Linked DNA regions of Homo sapiens: region 1 is linked to region 2. A link means that fine-mapping ties the variant in region 2 to the plasma level of a protein whose gene starts in the linked region. Region 2 holds a variant in brackets. A gene starts in the other region. All regions are shown on their forward strands.

What was found. PIP is the chance, under the fine-mapping model, that this variant and not a neighbour inherited with it causes the effect. The UK Biobank Pharma Proteomics Project read protein levels with antibody pairs (Olink). The fine-mapping took linkage between variants from a reference panel, not from the people measured, so its PIPs are less certain.
Region 1: it holds the start of GFRAL, and the variant in region 2 is fine-mapped to the plasma level of the GFRAL protein (UK Biobank, PIP above 0.99).

Annotation. Positions count from the first base shown.
Region 1 is chr6:55,320,318-55,331,474 of GRCh38, forward strand. GFRAL (GDNF family receptor alpha like) reads left to right here and starts at 7,152. Exons shown (of 9, transcript NM_207410.2): 1 at 7,152-7,259. The coding sequence starts at 7,238.
Region 2 is chr20:41,198,361-41,209,517 of GRCh38, forward strand. It overlaps ZHX3 (zinc fingers and homeoboxes 3), which reads right to left. Exons shown (of 4, transcript NM_001384317.1): 3 at 3,697-6,706. The coding sequence starts at 6,556. Among named protein-coding and RNA genes, the nearest start is that of MIR6871, 35 kb to the left of the region's middle. The variant T/C (reference allele first, on the strand shown) is at 5,628.

The sequences.
Region 1 (11,157 bases), not on the chromosome of region 2:
AATAGAAGAAATGAATAGAGCTATAGAAGTTGTGACACTTGGTATGTGAACAAACTCCTTTTAGGAAAAATAGGCTGGGGACAAGCCAAGTTCTGCTTAGTCTACCTGAGAGCTACTATTAGTCTGTCTTGTTAGCTCCCTGATGCAAGCTGGAGGTTAAGCTATGTAGTTGTCACTGGATGAGTGTGCAGTAAGCTGCTAGAGAAAAAAAAAAAAAGGAGCTGTGCATTCTAGCCCCTGTTCTCCACTGCTCCCAAGAGATATAGTTCCTGGAAGAGTTTGCATGCCTGTTTAAAACCACCTCTTTGTTCTGTGATCTAGGGAGACTTGTATATGCCTAGTCTCTTCTGCTCTTAGAGCCAGGAGTTTTGGGATATAGTATTTCTGGTAAATGCTGTAAAAGGGCATTTTGTGGGTGAACACACTCCTTCCAGGGAGAATTGGGAGAGCTGGGATTATTGCTGAGTTGAGCTGGAGGAAGTCTCAGGAAGTGTTAAGCTGCTGCTCAGGCTGTTAGAGAGCTACTTTTTGCTTGCCCCTTTAACTCTCAGATGCGTTAGTTAGAAACCAGACTGTCAAGTAGCCGCTAGGGGAGTATGCTGTAAACCTCTTCCAGGGAGAACCAGGTAGTGGTATTTTTGAGTCCTGTCTCTGTACTAATTCTACTAATTCACAGTGTTAAAGCACCTGAAAAAGTGCTTGCACACACATATAAAACTGCCACTGTTTTCCTGTGGTCTAAATAAACTTGTGTATGTCTAATTCTCTCTAACTCCCAGAGTTGGTGAATTAAGAGCCAAACTGTTGGGCATCTTATAATTGGGGTGCCATATGTAAGGTCCCAATCCTCTCCACAGGGAGAATCTGAGTGTTAGTGATTCCAGTTATATGGTGAAGTACCTGGAAGGGGTCCATGCTCAAGTATGCCTCAGATTTGTCTACCCATTTGAAGTGCATGTTTGGGTTTTTATTTTGCTTTTGATGTGTTTTTTTTTGTCTTTTTTTTTGAGACAGAGTCTCATTCTGTTGTAAAGGCTAGAGTGCAGTGGCACAATCTTGGCTCACTGCAGCCTCTGCCTCCCTGGTTCAAGTGATTCTCCTGCCTCAGCCTCCCGAGTAGCTGTGACTACAGATGCGTACCACCATTCCCAGCTAATTTTTGTATTTTTGGTAGAGACAGGGTTTCATCATGTTATCCAGGCTGGTCTCAAACTCCTGGACTCAAATAATCCACCAGCCTTGGCCTCCCAAAGTGCTGGGATTAAAGGCATGAGCCACTGCGCCCGGCCATGCATGTTTTCTTTCTTGCCTGGTAGGCAGGAATCTCTCAACTTATTTCTGACTTTCTCTCACAGGGAATTAATTGAGATGTTCATTCTGTGCATTTGTGAGTATTGGGAGTGCCAGGAGCTTCCTATTCTGCCATGTTGCTGACATCAGTCTAAGGAAAACAGTTTAAAGAAAGTTCATCAAAAAGTAACAGTAGACACATCTGGGTGTCTTAAATATGAATACATTTCTTTCTTTCTTTCTTTCTTTCTTTCTTTCTTTCTTTCTTTCCTTCTTTTCTTTCTTCCTTTCCTTCTCTTTATTTCTTTCCTTCTTTTTCTTTCTTTCTTTTTTTTTTTTTTTTTTTTTTTTGGAATTTTGCTCTTGTCGCCCAGGCTGGAGTGCAATGGCACAATCTCGGCTCACTGCGACCTCCGCCTCCTGGGTTCAAGTGATTCTCCTGCCTCAGCCTCCCGAGTAGCTGGGGTTACAGGCATGTGCCACCATGCCCCGCTACCTGCTAATTTTTGTATTTTTAGTAGAGACAGGGTTTCACCATGTTGGCCAGGCTGGTCTCAAACTCCTGAGCTCAGGTGAGCCACCTGCCTTGGCCTCCCAGAGTGCTGGGATTACAGGCGTGAGCCACTGCACCTGGCTACTTTTATTTCTTATATTTTTCAAATGCTATATATATAAGTATCAAAACTTTACAATGTAAAAACTATTTTGAAAAGGAAAAGATCATTATAACAGTTATAGATCTGTTTTCAGTAGCCTTAGCAACTTATTAACAATCCTTTTATGTTCCTGTCGGACATCTCCCCCCATGGAATGTCCAAAGCCCCTTTCCAATGCACCATTGAGAGAACTGGCCTTACAAAATTGCCCTATCTGGAATTCAGCAGGACCATACACTACCCCCATTCAGTCGTCTCTCTGAAAGACAATGTTGGCAGTGTCTGGCCACAATTCAAAGGTTACTATCTCCTATTTTTAAAAAAAGGACTAGAACATATAAATTTGAATACAAATGTATAATGTTTTGAGGTGATCTGGTAAGATGTTGGTCTTCCTTCATTTAGTAATAACCTCGCTGGATCAACAGGTACATAACATCTTTTCACGGTGATAATTGGAATGTGCACTAGACTCTAGCAGTTACATAAAATGGGAAACAGAGAGTAGCAAACGAGTTATAAGGAATTTAAAGGCGTTATGAATGCTTTTTAATAGTTGGTCTTAACTATGGTCTTAGAGATGTAATAAATTTCTGAAAATCAGACCCAACTAATAGAGTAACACGACCATCACCAAAACACAACCATGGAGACTTACTCAATTTTAGCTGAAAGGGGATAGCACTGTCTCAGCCAAATTGGACTGATATGATTGAGTATATTAATTTACCCAAAAAAGAAAGAAAATGACATATACCTCCTTATCATGAAGAGGGCTACATGGGGTTTATTCTAACCTGATGCCATTAAATATTCAGGTTATATAGAATGAATTATGGAACTAATCCTCTTTAAATATTTTCACCCACCAATTTTATGTTAGCATACCTACATTAAGATACTGGCTAGCATTTAGCTTTTTTTATAAGTAAATAAATTGGCAATATCATTAACACTTCCATCAATATCATTGTTTAAAGCATAAATAATAAATGAGTCCATTCTTTATTTCCTACTAGACTGAGGGCCAGAACTTAATAATAATCCTCTAAGGCAATCTTATTTTTTGGAGCTGTTTTAGTTCTCTTGAAGACAGGCAGCGTATCTTCCCAAATGATGACATGAGCCAAAGGAATGGCTGTTTAATTAAAATTTTTAACTTCATCAATGGATTGAATGATTTTGTATAAAGAGTATTGAACTGTGAGTCTTGTGCCTTGATAAATGGTGACAACCAACACCAAGTAACGCAAAACAAAAGTAAGAATTCATTCCTCCTTCTCAACCCGCCCACCATCTCAAATGGTTGCCAGATCCTGTAAATTTTAAATTCTGAAATTTCTTGGACCTACCATTTTCTCTGCATCATTACTACTTTTAGTTCAGCCCTTGTCATTCTCCCCTAAACTACTGACATAGCTTTGTGACAGGCAATTTACCTTGTTTCCAAACCATCTTCCATAGCATTGCATAAGCAATTTTTCAAAACCCAACCAGGTTACTCTGTTCTGGAACTCACCAAAAGCCTCTCTTTCTTCTGTTAAACTCTAGTCTTCTTGGTAAAGCATAAAAGGCCACCCATAATTAGCACTTATCTTTTCCTCTTCATCCACTGAGTCTCAGTAACGTTAGTCCATCTGAACTCCGCAGAACAAACCTCAGAGTCTTGGCTCCTTGTGGTTTCTCAGCTTCTCCCAGTTTTGGCGGCCTTGTCCCTCCATGCCTGGCCACATCTCATCAGGTTGTGAGTGAGGAGCTTGATGGGCAAGTTATGGTGAGGTGATTAAGTATACCTAATTATTATTATTTTTTTTGGTGAGGTCTTCCAATAAAAAAAGCAAGAGTTTTTTTGTTGTTGTTGTTTAATTTCTCCAAAAATTACTGCTTCATGTCTGCTTTTATTACTTGGCATCTTAGAACTCTGTTTACAGGTCTTTTAGCCAAGAAACTCATGACCATATGTATGTATTCTTTTCAGAATGTCAATTTTAGGTTGGCTAGAGCTGAACAGACTCCTCCAGACAGTAGCATGCTACAAAAGTTTTAAGTAGACAAATATAGTGGTAATGCAAAGGTGATTGGAGGAAGTCGAATGTCACTGAACAAAAGCTTTAAACAACTTTATGTTCCAAAAAGAAGTGCCCTTGAATATGAAGTTTTTTTCACTGATTTATCATAGAGTTTTATTTAACAATTTTTCTTTTTTCGCTTTTATATGTAGCTTAATTTGCATTCTAGTTTATCCAATTCATGCAACTAGTGTCTGTCCCTCATTTTTGTTTTTGTAGAGTCTTTGATACAAAAGTCTTTTAGTAAATATTACATGTCTTTTGCCAAGGTGTGAGGTCTAGTGCATTTAACTGTCATGAGAATGATACGTTAGCTAAAACAAAATTTATCAAAAAGCAATTACATAAATTTAGGGAATTTTGAATGGGAATTTCAGAGCCTTTGGGATGCTTCAGTAGCAGCTGTGAATGTGCTGGCAAAGCCCAATAAGTAGAGCTGAGGACTACTCATGAAAATTCCCACCGGAGCAGCTGTACTTTCTTCTGTTTCATTTATATATTACAACATTTTACTTGAAATGTAGAATACATTTTAAAATTAGGCACACATTATAATTAGAAACTATCAAAATTGATAATTCTATTTCTACAATGTTCTGATTCAATAGCAGCTTTCATTTAAATAATCGAGAGTATTATTTTCGTAGACATTAAATTTGGGTTTATGAATTTGAGGTTCTATAATTTGCTTGGGGTAAAATTGTGTTATCTTTTTACTAAACTCATTGAAATTCAGTACTTCCTGTGCTATCTTTGTCACTAATAGAAGTTACAGATATTTTTATATAACATTTTATTAGTGGAAGTTCTTTCAAATTAGGATCTGTGATAATCACTACACTGAAACAACAATATTTTTAGACTCACTTAGATCTTGATATTTCCTTCTGCAATGAGGAAGCATATGTATTACTTTATCACAAATTTAAAACATATTTTGACAAGTATATTTTAACATACTTAATTTCCTTTATGATCTTTAAAATTTTTTTTTGCCATGAAAATATTATCCTGAGAAGGAGTCTATACACAAAGAGGACTGATGGCTCAATGAACAGGCATTCAGTGGTAACACAGCTGATATTATTTTGTGTTGGATAAACAGCTATATGACCACAGGTGCTTTCTATACCTATAAGTTATAGACCGAAGCAGCTGTACTTGTCTGGCAAAGATTAGCACCATTCACAGGGTCTTATATTCAGGTTCTGTGGATCACTGCACTCTAGAAAGTCATAACTATATCGCCTTCCTTGAACAGAAAATTATGTTATTCTCTTCCTTTGTTTCATAAGTTTATTTTCCTTGTGGTTGCTCTTCTTAAACTCAGCACTTAGATACATTACTAAGCATGTGGTTTTTGCTGCCCCAAGATCCCTTCAGCTGCTTCTTCTAATACCATAATTTTCCTTCGTGATGCACACCTTCTGCACCATCAGATTCTGTGCTTTGAAAAGGGCCAACTACACTGACAACCTGTATCTATGATACTGGACATGGGGTAAGTTCCTTTTGTAAAATTGATTGGCACTTGACACATCTAGAACTGATGTGACTTAATTCTGCAACTTTAATAGTAAAAGAATGACACTTTCTACCCTGCTTTCTAAGAGAGAAGGATGTTTGCCAAGGGCTTCACAGCCATCTTCCCACCAGAAGGAAATAGCCTTTCTGGGAATAGAACTGGTAGAGAAGAATGCAGGTAAGAGACAGGAGGAAACAAACAACTTAGACCCAGAGAAAACAGTTTAAAACACACCTGAAATTAATTCTTCCCACGGACTCTTCAACTATGGTAGTAACCAACTCTGTCCTAGTTTAAGTCCTTTTAAGTTGGCTTATATCTAAGCTTGTCTTGGTAGAAGTCATTAGGAAAGTTTAGTGACTCAATCCCTTGAAAAGAAGAAAAGATTGATTAATTTTATGATATTATAATCCTTCTATTATGTAATAATTAAGTCAGTGAATGTAATATAATCAATTTTTTTGTGATATAAGCCCCTCATATACATACCTTATATTACAGCAAGAATTAATACAATTGACACATTTTACAAAGGAGTGAATAACTTCCAATGCTAAGTCACTCATCTAGATCTATAGAGAAAAGCAGTGTTATAATTTTTGTTTGTTGGACTCTAGAGTCTGTGTTTTTTCATTATGCCTGCTGAAAACAAAATATAGTATAACTTCTCTACTGGTATAAAATAAACATGAACAATATGCAATCAAAAACTCAATGGTGTAACTGCACAAATACTTCTCTCCCATCCCTATCTCTTCTTAATTTCTTGCCAAAGCAGCATTTTATTTTTTAAGCATTCATTCTAGAAAGGCCTCCAGGTGATTTAGAAATAGAAGTCTCATGACACCCCAAGAAAGATGATGTGCTGTAGGTTTACATGAGGAAGGGCGTAGCCAAACCAAGGCATAAGATAAATAAGTCCCTTCATTGAAACTAGGAAAAAAAATAGTTGTCAAGTGATGCACACAAATGTAGATGATTATCTTTCCAGTGGAACATAGAATTTCTGCATCACTGAGAAGAGTATGTTTTTTACACTGTAGCTGTACTTGGAAGGTATCAGATACTGTAGCTGAAGTGGCATAATTTTTAAGCATACTGGGGTTTGTGGCACATGTAATACAACATTCTTTGTTTGGGAAGCAGCTTCCCAGTATGTTTGAGTTATATCAGGCTAATTCTAGTAGAACTTCGATTTTGCATACATTTTCCAGGGCTATTATGCGTTTTTAGCTTTTCTATATCCTCAAATGACATGAAATTGCCTTAATGAGGCTAATTAAACAAGTGGAGACTGAGTATGCTCAAGTGTCTTTGAAAATTTTGGGTCATATTTGGGAGGCTTTTACGTAGTGTTGTATTTTAGTTAAGGAAAATAAACCTTTTTCATGAACGTGCAGATTATGTATCATTTCTCTTAGTATTTGGCTCATGGGCTTTCTTAGAGGCATAATATCCTAATATTCAAGACCAGCACCCTCAGGAGAATAATCGAATTTGAATATAATTAGAACAGTTCACAACTTAGGAAACACTGGGGAGGAAATGATGATATAGGAAGCTGACTTGAATTGGTAATGCCTTTAGGAAGCAAACACAGAGGCTGAAGCCTTATTCTGGACAGTTACTCTTAAGAAAGTTGTCAGAAGAAACGCATCTGCCTTTTTTTCCAGGTGAACTGCCGTGAGTTGTCCAGCATGATAGTGTTTATTTTCTTGGGTAAGTGAATGGTGCTTCTGGTTTATCTGAATTATTCATAATACTAATTCTTTGTAAACTGAATACCATCACACTTAAGCTTAACAGGGGCTTATAATATGAAGTACCAAGTAAATTACAAATTTATGCTTTAACATGGTTTATTCTTCTTGCAAAAATGTACACTCACTTTTACTCACTTATTTCTAACTCTATAGATAATGCAGCATGTGAAAATTGTATTAATCTCTCAGCTTGTTTCTGTTTTATTGTATAGAATGACCCAATGACTTTGAGTTACTTATTAGGATTAATGGAATTCACACATGTGTTAGAACCTTTTAGAAATAAAAATAAAACCTTCCAGTATCTATTTACAAGTTATAAGATGAAAAATTTCAAACTGTTATCTATTTTATTTATTTTGCTTTGAAATTAAACAAAAATAAGATTAATTTAAAACATTCAATTTACCTACAGTGTTAATATTTGCTAACTAGAAGTAATTTAGTGAAGTAAAACCACTTAACACCATATCAGAATGCTTCATATTTTCATTAATTTTTATGACCTAGAACTCAAGTGTGGACTTACTTCTCTTGTATTGGATCCGATGAATGTATTATAAGATGTTGATGAAAAATAATTTATTTTTATTTAATGTAGAATCCATGAATCTATTTGCTAGATGTGTGACTGGAGAATATTTTATATCTTCTTTAGCATTTGGTAGAATCTATAAACTGAATTCAGAAAAGGAATAATTGTAACTGTAGCTAGATTGTAATTTTAAAAATATGGCATTTTATGTTTAAGCTAATATATACTTGAATAAAGGCATAATTATGGGCCAGAAAGCAAAGAAGTTTACTTTAAATTGTATCGAACATAAAAGGAGAGTCATATCAAGTCAAGGAAACAAGTTAAGAAGGAGAGAAATCCCTTATATTTTCAGTTTTTCTTTTGTTTAAGTAATATTTTTCCATTGTTCCATAATTTTGCTTTTTGTAATTATTCCTAAAATATTTTCTTATTTTTATAAAGATTGTTAATATTTCTTTAGTTCTTTTTTGTGATAAAGAGAAATATAGGAAACTTTAATTTTTATAGATCAGGCAGCAATATAATGAAGCTCACAAAATACATTACAGACTCATTATGACCTCAGTTGAAAAGGCAATGGCCTCTTATTTTCATCTTTTACTTCTAAATTAACTTGACACCAGGTTGCATGAAGGAGGGAAATAACTTCTTAACATTGTTAGAACTAAAATTATACTATTTGATATGTTGTACCAACATTTCCCATATTATATTTTTTAGAATGCTTGTTTGACATTATCTAAATAGGTCTTATAATGAGGAAAATGTCTGTTGGTAAAGAAATGTGGAAAACAATGAATTTTAAAATCTCAGAACATTTAGTAGGATAATAAGCCCCATACATCTTTAAAACACTGATATAATTTGCAGCATTATCCATCTTATTAATTTAAAAATAGAAGTTATTTTTCATTGAGTATTACAGGAAAATTCTTGAAAAATCCTAGGTTAAATACAAAACCACAAGTCATAGTTTGGAATGAATAAGACAGATTTTGGAGAGGTAATACATTCTTGATTCTTGTGGACCAAATCATTGAGGTGGTTTTCTTAGTTGAGTCAATATTTTGTTGAGTAGGAAGTGTGGAAAATCCTATAAAATAATCTATTAAGAAGCTTGTTCAACCAAAAACTGAAAATGTGAAAGGAAGTAAAACATTAAAAACTGAAAATGTGAAAGGAAGTAAAACATATTTGGGGAAGACAACATGTAGTATTTCTAAGTGATTATTACTCTGAAGTACTGATGAAGTTTTGATGATATATCTGGGATATTATCACTTATAAGATTCTTGAAGGGGCTTTTCACAAGATATAATGATTAATGGCAAATAAAATACCATTTTCTTATAAGTTGAGTTTATGACTTCAAATTTCTATTTCTGGGTCTTTGGAAAACTGGATTTGACCAAGTAAATTTGTGCTAGGATCAAAAGAGTCCTCTTTTTCTTTCTTTGGGCTAGCCAAATAAGGAGTACAAGGGCTTGGCTAGATGAGGTTGTCCATGAACACATGAGAAAACAGAAAGCTGATATGTCCATTTCCACTCCAGCCCTCAGCAAGAAAAATGTTACCAAGCTACACCCATGGGCCTAATCTCCAAATGCAGTGACCCAGCAAGTAGTACACATGGTCCAATCAGTTGTCTTGGATTCTTCTTATAAGATGAGATTTGCAAAGAGGTAAGATTTAAAAAAAAAAGAGAGATTTCAAGCCCTTACTTGAAGCCTATCACTCTACATTGTCACAGGTGATTCATAATTAACAACAGCATTTAAAAATTCAAATAATTTGGCTCTTATTTAGTTATAGCTTGACTCTCTTGATGACAGTTACTACAACTGTCTCTGTAACACAATTTCAATCCCTGTATTTTTTTCTATTAATTGATTTGGCTAGTGTCACTTCATATGTTTGCAGAATCAATTTGACTAACTTGCGTAACATATTAAATTAACATTGCTATTTTCTTGATTGTTTTTAGAAAACTTGCTGGATTTCTCCTCTAGCAAAAGTAACTTGTAAATATCTGGAAGGTATTATTTTTTAGATGTTATCAGTTATTTATATATCTTATATATAAACATCTAATAACTTGGGTATAAGCCAATATTCATTTATTGAATACCTATACTGCATCACTGTGTTTGGTGACAAAAATACAGTTATAAATTATCCTTAATGTCTGTGGGTAAAGCTGTACAATCCAGTGGTGGAGACAGGCACATGAATATATACACTACAGAACAGTAAAATCTGTAATTGCGGGATCCCCACAGTTCTAGTAAATGGATGGAAGATGTCAAATTCAATTTGAGTGTGGAAAAAGGGGAGTATAGAATTCAAGTAAAGTTTCCAGAAAATAGCTAATGATTGTGTTCAGTTTTAAACAACAAAAAGGGTTATTCCAGAAGAAAAAGAAAGAAAATACTTATCAGGGATCAGACAGTAGGTATGCAGAGGTAGAAGACAGCATGGATCATTCGGGAAACGATAAATGCTTGAGACCTTCCAGATTGCACATGGTGAGGAATATGAGAGCCCTGATATGAGAAATAGTTTAAAGGATATAAAACAGAAAAATGGCAAGACTAGAATAGTACATCAGGTAGATTAGGGGTTACAAAGAACCTATCTGAATAAGGTTCTGAATAAGATTCAAACTGGAGGCAGACTGACTAATAAGTTAAACAAATGCTCAAAGTGAAAGTCAATAAATTTAGCAAGAATGAATATGGGAGAGTGAAGTTGAGGATGGAAAATAGTCTACCACAAAACCAAGATTTCTAGTTTGAGTTCTCATGTTAATTGTGGCATTGTGAATGAAGTAGTGGTCCACAGTGGAACAATGATGATGAAGATCCTGTGAAAGTGTTTCTGAAACATTCAAGTAGAGATAACAATTACGTACCTATGACAGGAACGCTGGAAATACTGAGATTAAATTATACATTTGAGAATCATCAGACTAACATTTTAGTTCAAACCATAAGAGTACATGGAATTTTCTGCAGAGAATGTATAAAATGAAAATAGAAAAGGTCTGAGAAGAGAACCTAAGCTAAAATTATACTTTACTAGAAGAATAAAATGATCCTGGGAATAATTTTAGCTATGGTCAGAAAATACAAAGTGGATAAATATCAAGAGAACAGAAGGGAGGGCTGGCAAAGGAAGAGTTTCAAAAACAAAAAAGTCAACAAAATGGTCAATGGTGAGATAAAGTTTAAAACCATTAAGTTAGATTTTAAAGGGGTAATTAGAGACTTTTTTAAGAGCAGTTTTAATGGAATAATAGTAATAAAAATAAATTATA
Region 2 (11,157 bases):
TAGCATTTCTGGTAGGGCATGTCTACTAATAATGATCTCCTTCAATTTTATTTGGAAATGTCTGGATTTCTCTTTCATTTTTGAAGAATAGTTTTGCCATATACAGAAATCTTGGTTTAGAGGTTTTTTTTTTTTCTTTTTTTCACGACTTTAGATATGTCATCTCACTGCCTTTGGGCTTCCAAGATTTTTGATGAGGAATCGGCTGTTAATCTTGTCAAAAATTCTGTGTGACGAGTTGCTTCTCTCTTGCTGCTTTCAAAATCCTGTCTTCAGGTTTTGACAATCCTAATATAACATGTCTTGGTGTGGATCTGAGTTCATCCTGCTTGGATTTTATTGAGCTTTTTGGATGTGTAGATTCATGTCTTTCATCAGATTTGGGAAATTTTCTATCATTATTTCTTTAAATATTCTTTCTGTCCCTTTTCTTTTTCTGCGATTCCTATATGAGTATATGAGTATGAATATACTAATGAATATAATAACTATATGAATATATGAGTACATTAGTATGCTTGATGATGTCTCACAGCTCTCTCAGGTTTTTTTTCCTAAATATTTTTTTTCTTTCTTCTCCTTTGGATAATTTCAATTATTTTCTCTTCAAATTCACTGTTCTCTTCTTTTGCATGCCCAAATCTTTGTTGAATCCCTCTAGTGGGTTTTCCATTTCAGGGATTATACTTTTTAGCTCTAGAATTTGTTTGGTTCCTTTTTATAATTTCTATCTCTTTATTGATATTCTCATTTTGTTCATGCATGGTTTTCCTGATTTCCTTTAGTTCTTCGTCCATGTTTTCCTTTAGCTCGCTGAACATACTTAAGATAGTTGATTTAATGTCTTTGGGTAATAATTCCAATGTCTGGACTTCCTCAAGGATGGTGCCTGTCAATTTTTTTTCCTGTGAATGGACCATGGTTTTCTATTTCTTTTTATGTTTTGTAATTTTTTGTTGAGAACTGGACATTATGAGTATTACATTGTGGTAACTGAGAATCTAATTCTGTCATGCCTCAGAGATTGCTGATTTTTGCTTATTGAGGGCTGGAGCCAACTATTTGTGACTTTTCCAACTATTTTTGTGAAGTGTGTATTCTTTGCAGTATGGGGTCAGTGAAGTTTCTGTTGTGATATCTCTGTGGTTAACCAGTGACCTAAGATTTCCTTAAATATCTGGCTTGCCAAAAGGAGGAATAAAGAAAAAAAAAAATAGGTACTGTCTCTTTAAATCCCCTTGTGGCTAGAAAGCTCCCTCTGCCCAAGGGCATTGAGACAATGATCAGCCTCTGCACTGGCCCCCTCAGTGATTAAATGCAGTAATCAGAAATCAAAAAACTCTTTTTTTTTTTTTTTTGCAATGGAGCCTCACTCTGTTGCCCAGGCTGGAACGCAGTGGTGTCATCTTGGCTCACTGCAACTTCTGCCTCCCAGGTTCAAGTGATTCTCCTGCCTCAGCCTCCCAAATAGCTGGGATTACAGGCACTCACCAACATGCCTGGCTAATTTTTGTATTTTTAATAGAGACAGGGTTTTACCATGTTGGCCAGGCTGGCCTCAAACTCCTGACCTCAAGTGATCCACACCTCAGCCTCCCAAAGTGCTGGGATTACAGGTGTGAGCCACCACACCTGGCCACAAAAACTTGACTTTTGGAGGACAAAGTTGTTATTGCCTACCCTGGCACCAACAGTCTGCACCAGGAACATTTTCCACAGTTGCCTGCTGCAGAGCTTGCGGATGCTGAAACAAAAAAAAACCATCAAAATTTGTAAGCCTCTCCATCAAGCTCTTCCCTGGATGTTGCAAGTGTTCAACTAGACTTCTGAGTCCCAAAACAGTTGCTTGAGACAATTACTGCCAGCTCAACTGCTTTGGTGGAGGAAAAGATTCCTGGTGCTGCTACTGCCATCTTCCATAACATCATTCTCCATGTCAGCTTTCGTAATCAACTTGTTCAAACATCCTCATCTCTCTTGAGCATGACACCCTGGCCTACTGGTATATTACAAGAAGCACAGAGCTGGGTATAATATAAGGACCAACTTACAAACTTGGACAAAGACTTGTAGGAGAGACTACCTGCTCTGCATTATAAAAAAGTTAAACTAGCCATAAAAACCTGTTGTTCTGACTCCAGGGTGTGCCATCAGCTACTTTATAAAGCAGGCTGTGAGCTGTGGGCCCCAAAGGAGGGGAGTGTTTTGTTGTTGCCGTATTGAAAACATGGCTGGAGTTGGAGGAGGCTGTAAGGGAGCCAGTGGCCCTTGTACTCCTACCCTAAGTGCTGACCAGGGCTTTGGGCTCCACCAGGTGTTTGCTCTCACTGTGGGCTTTGTGGAACTGGATTTTGCCTTAGTATGTTAATATGAGAAGAACAGGCTTTCTGCAAATGCTAAACAGATGGATGACATGGTACTCCCCGCCCCCAACCCACCAAATTATGGGCCAAAAAGGAAGTCTCTTTTTCCTTAATTCAGTAAAGAAACAATAGCATAACTATGTTTCAAACTGTTGTGTTCAAATGAATTTAAAATATTCAGAGAAAGAAAAAGAATTTTGTCCTTTTTAAGACATCCTAAGTAGAAAGCAACTGGGGTGGAGGAGCTGGGATTTGCCAGGCCAAAATAAACAAACAACAATGGTTGGCTATTGTATGGAAACAATGCAACACCATCCAGGAAATTCTGTGGGATTTCTGAGGGATAGGCCACTATGGTTGGCCCTGGGGATGAGGTACCAAACACAAGGCCCCACACTGAGGCAGCTCATGCCAAAGTCACCACGGAACCATCACATTGCCCAACACCACAAATAGTGTCTCCTGTACCCCCTCCCACATTGCCAACTCAGCTAGCAATGCTGCCATTTTGGAACCCCCAATCCCTTCAGCTTCTACAATACTCCGCCCTCCTGGCTCTCACCTGAGCTTCTGGCTGCCCTCTGATGGGGTCTCTAATGAGAACACAAATGTCAAAGGGTAAGGAGGGAAGGGAGAGGCTGGGAACTCAGTGACCAGGAACCTAGAAAATCAACACGTAATAACATGACTTGTCTGTGGCTTCAAAACTATGTCTTAAATAAAAATAATCTTCTATGATACATTTTGCTTTCGAGTACAATCCAGAGAAACTGAGGAACAAAATTCAAGCTTTTGATTCCATGTATGTCAAAGAAGGAAGGTGATTTTCCATTATACTAAACATTTCTTCTACATCAGGCATAACCAGAGAAACACAAGACTTTCATCATCAGAAAAAAGCACATTATGTATCTAAGGACAATTAAAGGCTCTCTTTCCTTTTCATCAATTTGAGCTGAATTTCAACTCATGTCCTGTTGCTGTCTCCTACCCAGTGGCTGTGGATCTGCCCGACTCAGAGGATGTTTTGACCTGTTCTCCTATTGCTAAGAAATGGCTAGAAAAGCTTGGACCCCTTTAGGGTCACCATGTTCCTTCCCCTGCGCAGGTTTTTAAAAACACATGAAACAAAAAACAGCTCTCAACCGTTTATCATATTATATTCCTATGGCTTCTGCTGCTAGTTGTCCTCTGAAGCAGCCAGGCGGTTAATGCTGCTGCCAGGCAGCCTTAGAGACAGCAGATGCCCCTGTGCAGTAAATTCAGTGCCCAACCATAAGTGCCTCCTCCCCTTACCCACACAGGATAGCCATGGCCCCTGTGGACTCCTTACCGAGCTGACGTCCAGCCTGGGGACTCGATGTGTCAAAGGGCTCTGAGCTGGCCTCAGGGACACGGGGCTCCCACGACTCACTGTTCTCAGACACCTCTGAATAGGTGTCACCCATCCCTTTGTGAACTGCTGTGAGCTCACCAGTACCAGGGCCCTGGTCCTCACTGCCTGTGTCTGCCACGGCTCTGGTCTCCTCCCCCATTTTCTCAGCAAACCACTGCTTGACCTGCTGGGAGCTCATCTGGGTCTTGTCACAGAGGTTCTGCAGGTCCTCTTCATACAGCATCTTGTGTGTCATGTAATAGTCCTGCAGGAGCTCCCGGTTGCCAGGGGCAATGACCAGTAGCCCTGGTGGGAAGTTGCCTCGCTTATAGTCTTCGTACCATTTGAGTTGGCCGTTCTTCAGTGCGTACCTGCTATCTCCAAACCAGCGCACCACCTCTGGCCGTGGCAGACCCGTCTGGGCCATGATGGAGTCATAGTCCTGGTTGCTTGGCCACTGTGTCTGGACAAAGAGCTGCCGCAGCAAGTGCCGCTGCTGGGCAGTCTTTTTGCAGCTCACTTTGCCTGGGAGCTGCTCTGCCAGTTTGTTTGACTCATCATCCTCAGGGTCACAGGCACCCAGCCCTGGAATCTCGTTCCTGCCATTGGCTTCAGTGACCCTCAGGTTCTTCAGGTTGATTTTAATGGGGCTGACTTTGCGCTCTGCCAAGATATGGCTGCTGGGCATTTCCAGAGAGCCATTTTCACCAGAGACCCTTAGCTCACTGGCCAAATCCTCTTCTCCACCCTCATCCTCAGCAGCCTCCTCTTCCTCCTGAGAGGCATTCTCCTCAGCCTTCTTGGTCTCCTCAGCATTCACTTTTTTCCGTCTCTCTGAAAACCAGCTATCAATTTCTCGTCGGGTCATTTTGGTTTCACTTCTCAGGCGGTCCAGTTCCTCATCAAGAGGAAGAGGGTTTTGTGCAAAACTGCTCTCCAGGGCTCTGAGCTGCTCAGGGGCTCTCTCCTTGTATTTGGTTGGTGTGAAGTCAGGAGTCTGGTGCCAAGATTGTCGTTTGGCAGAAGGGTGGGTTGCTAGTGTGGCTGTTGTCGGAATGCAGGTTACCTCAGGGACCTTGGACGATGGGGAGAAGGACACCTCTGGCACAGAGTCAATGATGATGGAACTGTGATCTCCAGGTATCATCGCTCTGGAGCCCTTCAAGTTCCGGCAGTGGTATCTACGATCACTGAACCATTTCCGCACCTCTCTGGTACTGAGGCCCGTCACTTTTGTGAGATGTTCAACTTCGCTCTGCCCTGGGAACTGGTTCCGACAGAAGCTCCCTTTCAGAGCTGACAGCTGTTCATGAGATTTCTTATTTTTGTAGATGCTAGCATCAAGGAAGGCTTGGGAGGTTATGCTGGGGCAGGCCGTGAGGAGCGACTGGGCCGCATTGACCACCTTCACAGCTGACGTTGTATTTGAACACACAGTGTTAATGGGTGCCACACCTGGCTGCTTGGGGACGGATGTCACCGTGAGGGGGAGAGGGGAACTTGTTGCTTGCAACCCATTGGCCATCAATGGCTGAGTGACCAGAAGTCCCCCTCCTGTACCCTCTGGCTGCCCCACAACGTGACCTGGAAGAGCGGCCTGGATGAGATGCTGGACATTGCCAGCACTGGCGACGAGTGGGGTATTTAGAACCGTAATTGTGGGCTGAGGCACAGACTGGATGACTGTATTGAACATCTTTTTCCGGGCATCCTCAATCTCCTCAGGGGACCAGCTGATCCCCTGCTTCAGCCTTTGGGCTGTGAACCAGATCTTGAGCTGTTCTTCTGGATACTTGGTCACCACAGTCAAATAGCAGAGCTCGGCTTTGGTGGGGTAGGGGAACTTGTGGAAGGAGTTCTTCAGGAAGCTGTTAGAGTCCATGGCTGCA[T/C]TGTACGTTGGAATGCTGCTCAGGGGGATCATCACTTTGGGAAGGGCCTTGGCCGTGGGCAGTGGCTGGTGGACATGGTGTTGGGCATGCACTGGGGGCTGCTGCTGGAGGGAGAGGAACTGTGCTATGCCAGCTGGCAAAACTGGCACTGTTCCTATCAGGGGCCCGTTGGCGGCATGGGGGTTTTTTGCAGAGCTGGCAGATGCCTGGCTGACTGGAACTGCCCCATTGATGAAGGAATGGTCCCCCTCTCTCACCTCCATTTCTCCAGTCGACAGCTTTGGTAAGGCCTCACCCACAGGCTGGCTAGGGACATTCTCCTTGAGTGTATGAATTTTTTTGGCTTCAGCTTTGCCTTTCATTATCTTCATGATTGGAGTTTTGGTAATGATGATTTCTGCCTGTCCATCAGCCCCTTCAGCACTGGGCTCACCCGCTAGGTCAGGAGTGCTGGTGCTCTCAGGGATGCTCTGCTCCACAACCACATGATTGTCTGGCTTGGCCACGTTCCACACAAAGCTGGCTTCCCCGGAGTGACATGTGGCATTGTGCAAGGAAAGCCCCTCAGGGGTTTTTGCCAGAAAACTGCACCCACTGCATACAAAGGTTGGGTCTTTATTAAAGTCTGTGTGCTCTGAGTTCATATGTCCCACAAATTGGGTCATGTCATGGGATCTGAAATCGCAGTATTTACAGGAATATAAATAGCCATCTAAAGTGCTCCGATGCCCATTGGCCAGTGTAGAGCCATCAGTACTGCTGGGGTTCTGTGCTGCCTCACTGCTGGCAGCAGATGCTTCTGGGGGCAGATCCTGCTGGGGTCCTTCAGGCAAGGTCTCAGCGGGCTGGGCCTCCATGCTGGCATCTTGCAACACCACAGTCTTCACTGGGATCATGCATGGTGTGGTGGATTTCCTCTTGCTGGCCATGGTGACAATCACTGGGTGATCAGCAGTTGAGAGCTTGTCCCATAAGGGGCCTAACAATACAAGTTCCAGCTTCTCGATGAGGGCCAAAGAAACAGTTTCTAAATGCAGCTTTTTCAGTTGTTTGCAGAAAGCAGGTTTTCCCTATTCAATCTAAGGAAAGGGAGAAAAAAATGATTAAGTTCTCTTAAGTGCTTTCTGTATATTTCTCGGATACCCAGACACATTCCACTGCTTGCCTTCTACCATCTAGGTCTTTTCACAGTAAGTTTAATCAGCAACTTGGATATGAAGTCTAAGTTAGGAACCCCCTAATGACAAAAACTGGACCCTGAAGAATGACCTGGGGATGGTCCAATACCAACTGATAGACTTAAGCAACGTATTTTTGTTTCTTCCCCACCACCCCCTACATATCCCTGCATTAAGTAATTCAGATTAAAAAACAAAACGCCCTCTTTTTGGACCTCCAAATTAATTCTGACCATGTCAGAGTGAGAACAAAAGATCCTAGTGTAATTCTTGTTTACATTTTGGACCAACACGCGGTTTTCTTTTCATAGCCTTCCCGCATATGAGAACAAGATGACGCCTCTGTCTGTCCCAAGCCAGGCCCAGGGACCAAGTTAGCTGCAGTGTGTGAACGGAAGGGGTGGGGTGGGCGGGGGTGGCTAGGAAGACCGGCTGCTGTAAGAGCCAGGCCTCTGTAGCCTTTCCTTGCCTGCCGCACTTATTCCAGGCCACAGAAAAGCGATCACCTTACAGTTACTGGCTGTTATGTATCCCGGACCACTGTTACTGAGATGAAACCAAAGGTCAGAGGGTCAGGGAATCCACAGAACCAGTTTGTGGCCCAGCAAGCTATACATTTTCTGTGTACGACCACTCAAAGGGTGGTCTCACCTTGAGATCTGAGAACAGTTGGACTGCCTCCCCAAGTGGGTCCCTGACCCCTGAGTAGCCTAACTGGGAGGCACCTCCCAGTAGGGGCCGACTGACACCTCATACAGCTGGGTGCCCCTCTGAGATGAAGCTTCCAGAGGGAGGATCAGACAGCAACATCTGCCGTTCTGCAGTATTTGCTGTTCTGCAGCCTCCATTGGTGATACCCAGGCAAACAGGGTCTGGAGTGGACCTCCAGAAAACTCCAACAGACCTGCATCTGAGGGTCCTGACTGTTAGAAGGAAAACTAACAAACAGAAAGGACATCCACACCAAAACCCCATCTGGACGCCACCATCATCAAAGACCAAAGGTAGATAAAACCACAAAGATGGGGAGAAACCAGAGCAGAAAAGCTGAAAATTCTAAAAATCAGAGTGCCTCTTCTCCTCCAAAGGAACGCAGCTCCTCACCTGCAATGGAATAAAGCTGGATGGAGAATGGCTTTGATGAGTTGAGAGAAGAGGGCTTCAGACGATCAGTAATAACAAACTTCTCTGAGCTAAAGGAGGATGCTCGAAGCCATCACAAAGAAGCTAAAAACCTTGAAAAAAGATTAGATGAATAGCTAACTAGAATGAACAGTGTAGAGAAGACCTTAAATGACCTGATAGAGCTGAAAACCATGGCATGAGAACTACATGACGCATGCACAAGCTTCAGTAGCCGATTTGATCAAGTGGAAGAAAGAGTATCAGTGATTGAAGATCAAATTAATGAAATGAAGCGAGAAGTTTAGAGAGAAAAGAGAAAAAAGAAACGAACAAAGCCTCCAAGAAATATGGGACTATGTGAAAAGAACAAATCTACGTCTGATTGGTGTACCTGAAAATGACAGGGAGAATGGAACCAAGTTGGAAAACACTCTTCAGGATATTATCCAGGAGAACTTCCCCAACCTAGCAAGGCAGGCCAACATTAAAATTCAGAAATACAGAGAACAACATAAAGATACTCCTCGAGAAGAGCAACTCCAAAACACATTAATTGTCAGATTCACCAAAGTTGAAATGAAGGAAAAAATGTTAAGGGCAGCCAGAGAGAAAGGTCGGGTTACCCACAAAGGGAAGCCCATCAGAATAACAGCGGATCTCTCGGCAGAAACTCTACAAGCCAGAAGAGAAGTGGGGGCCGATATTCAACATTCTTAAAGAAAAGAACTTTCAATCCAGAATTTCATATCCAGCCAAACTAAGCTTCATAAGTGAAGGAGAAATAAAATCCTTTACAGACAAACAAATGCTGAGAGATTTTGTCACCACCAGGCCTGCCTTACAAGAGCTCCTGAAGGAAGCACTAAACATGGAAAGGAACAACTGGTACCAGCCACTGCAAAAAACATGCCAAATTGTAAAGACCATCAATGCTAGAAAGAAACTGCATCAACTAACGAGCAAAATAACCAGCTAACATCATAATGACAGGATCAAATTCACACATAACAATATTAACCTTAAATGTAAATGGGCTAAATGCACCAAGCAGACCTAACTGACATCTACAGAACTCTCCACCCCAAATGAACAGAATATACATTTGTCTCAGCACCACAGCACACTTACTCCAAAATTGACCACATAGTTGGAAGTAAAGCACTCCTCAGCAAATGTAAAAGAACAGAAATTATAATAAACTGTCTCTCAGACCACAGTGCAATCAAACTAGAACTCAGGATTAAGAAACTCACTCAAAACCGCTCAACTACATGGAAACTGAACATCCTGCTCCTGAATGACTACTGGGTACATAACGAAATGAAGGCACAAAGAAAGATGTTCTTTGAAACCAATGAGAACAAAGACACAACATACCAGAATCTCTGGGACACATTTAAAGCAGTGTGTAGAGGGAAATTTATAGCACTAAATGCCCACAAGAGAAAGCAGGAAATATCTAAAATTGACACCCTAACATCACAATTAAAAGAACTAGAGAAGCAAGAACAAACACATTCAAAAGCTAGCAGAAGGCAAGAAATAACTAAGATCAGAGCAGAACTGAAGGAGATAGAGACACAAAAAACCCTTCAAAAAATCAATGAATCCAGGAGCTGGTTTTTTGAAAACATCAAAATTGATAGACAGCTAGCAAGACTAATAAAGAAGAAAAGAGAGAAGAATCAAATAGACACAATAACAAACAATAAAGGGGATATCACCACCGATCCCATAGAAATACAAACTACCATTAGAGAATACTATAAATACCTCTACGCAAATAAACTAGAAAATCTAGAAGAAATGGATAAATTCCTGGACACATACACCCTCCCAAGACTAAACCAGGAAGAAGTTGAATCCCTGAATACACCAATAACAGGTTCTGAAATTAAGGCAATAATCAATAGCCTACCAACCAAAAGAAGTCCAGGACCAGACAGATCCACAGCTGAATCTACCACAGGTACAAAGAGGAGCTGGTACTATTCCTTCTGAAACTATTCCAATCCACAGAAAAAGAGGGAATCCTCCCTAATTCATTTTATGAGGCCAACATCGTCCTGATACCAAAGCCTGGCAGAGACACAACAAAAAAAGAGAATTTTAGACCAATATCCCTGATGAACATCGATGCAAAAATCCTCAATAAAATACTGGCAAATCGAATCCAGCAGCACATCAAAAAGCTTATCTACCACGACCAAGTTGGCTTCATACCTGGGATGCAAGGCTGGTTCAACATATGCAAATCAATAAATGTAATCCATCATATAAACAGAACCAAAGACAAAAACCACATGATTATCTCAATAGATGCAGAAAAGGCCTTTGACAAAATTCAACAGCCCTTCATGCTAAAAACTCTCAATAAATTAGGTATTGATGGGACGTATCTCAAAATAATAAGAGCTATTTATGACAAACCCACAGCCAATATCATACTGAATGGGCAAAAACTGGAAGCATTCCCTTTGAAAACTGGCACAAGACAGGGATGCCCTCTCTCACCACTCCTATTAACATAGTGTTGGAAGTTCTGGCCAGGGCAATCAGGCAGGAGAAAGAAATAAAGGTTATTCGATTAGGAAAAGAGCAAGTCAAATTGTCCCTGTTTGCAGATGACATGATTGTATATTTAGAAAACCCCATCGTCTCAGCCTAAAATCTCCTTAAGCTGATAAGCAACTTCAGCAAAGTCTCAGGATACAAAATCAATGTGCAAAAATCACAAGCATTCCAATACACCAATAACAGACAAACAGAGAGCCAAATCATGAGTGAACTCCCATTCACGATTGCTTCAAAGAGAATAAAATACCTAGGAATCCAACTTACAAGGGATGTGAAGGACCTCTTCAAGGAGAACTACAAACCAGTGCTCAACGAAATAAGAGGACACAAACAAATGGAAGAACATTCCATGCTCATGGATAGGAAGAATCAATATTGTGAAAATGGCCATACTGCCCAAGGTAATTTATAGATTCAATGCCATCCCCATCAAGCTACCAATGACTTTCTTCACAGAATTGGAAAAAACTACTTTAAAGGTCATATGGAACAAAAAAAGAGCCCACATTGCCAAGACTATCCTAAGTCAAAAGAACAAACTTGGAGGCATCATGCTACTTGACTTCAAACTATACTATACTACAAGGCTACAGTAACCAAAACAGCATGGTACTGGTACCAAAACAGAGATGTAGACCAATGGAACAGAA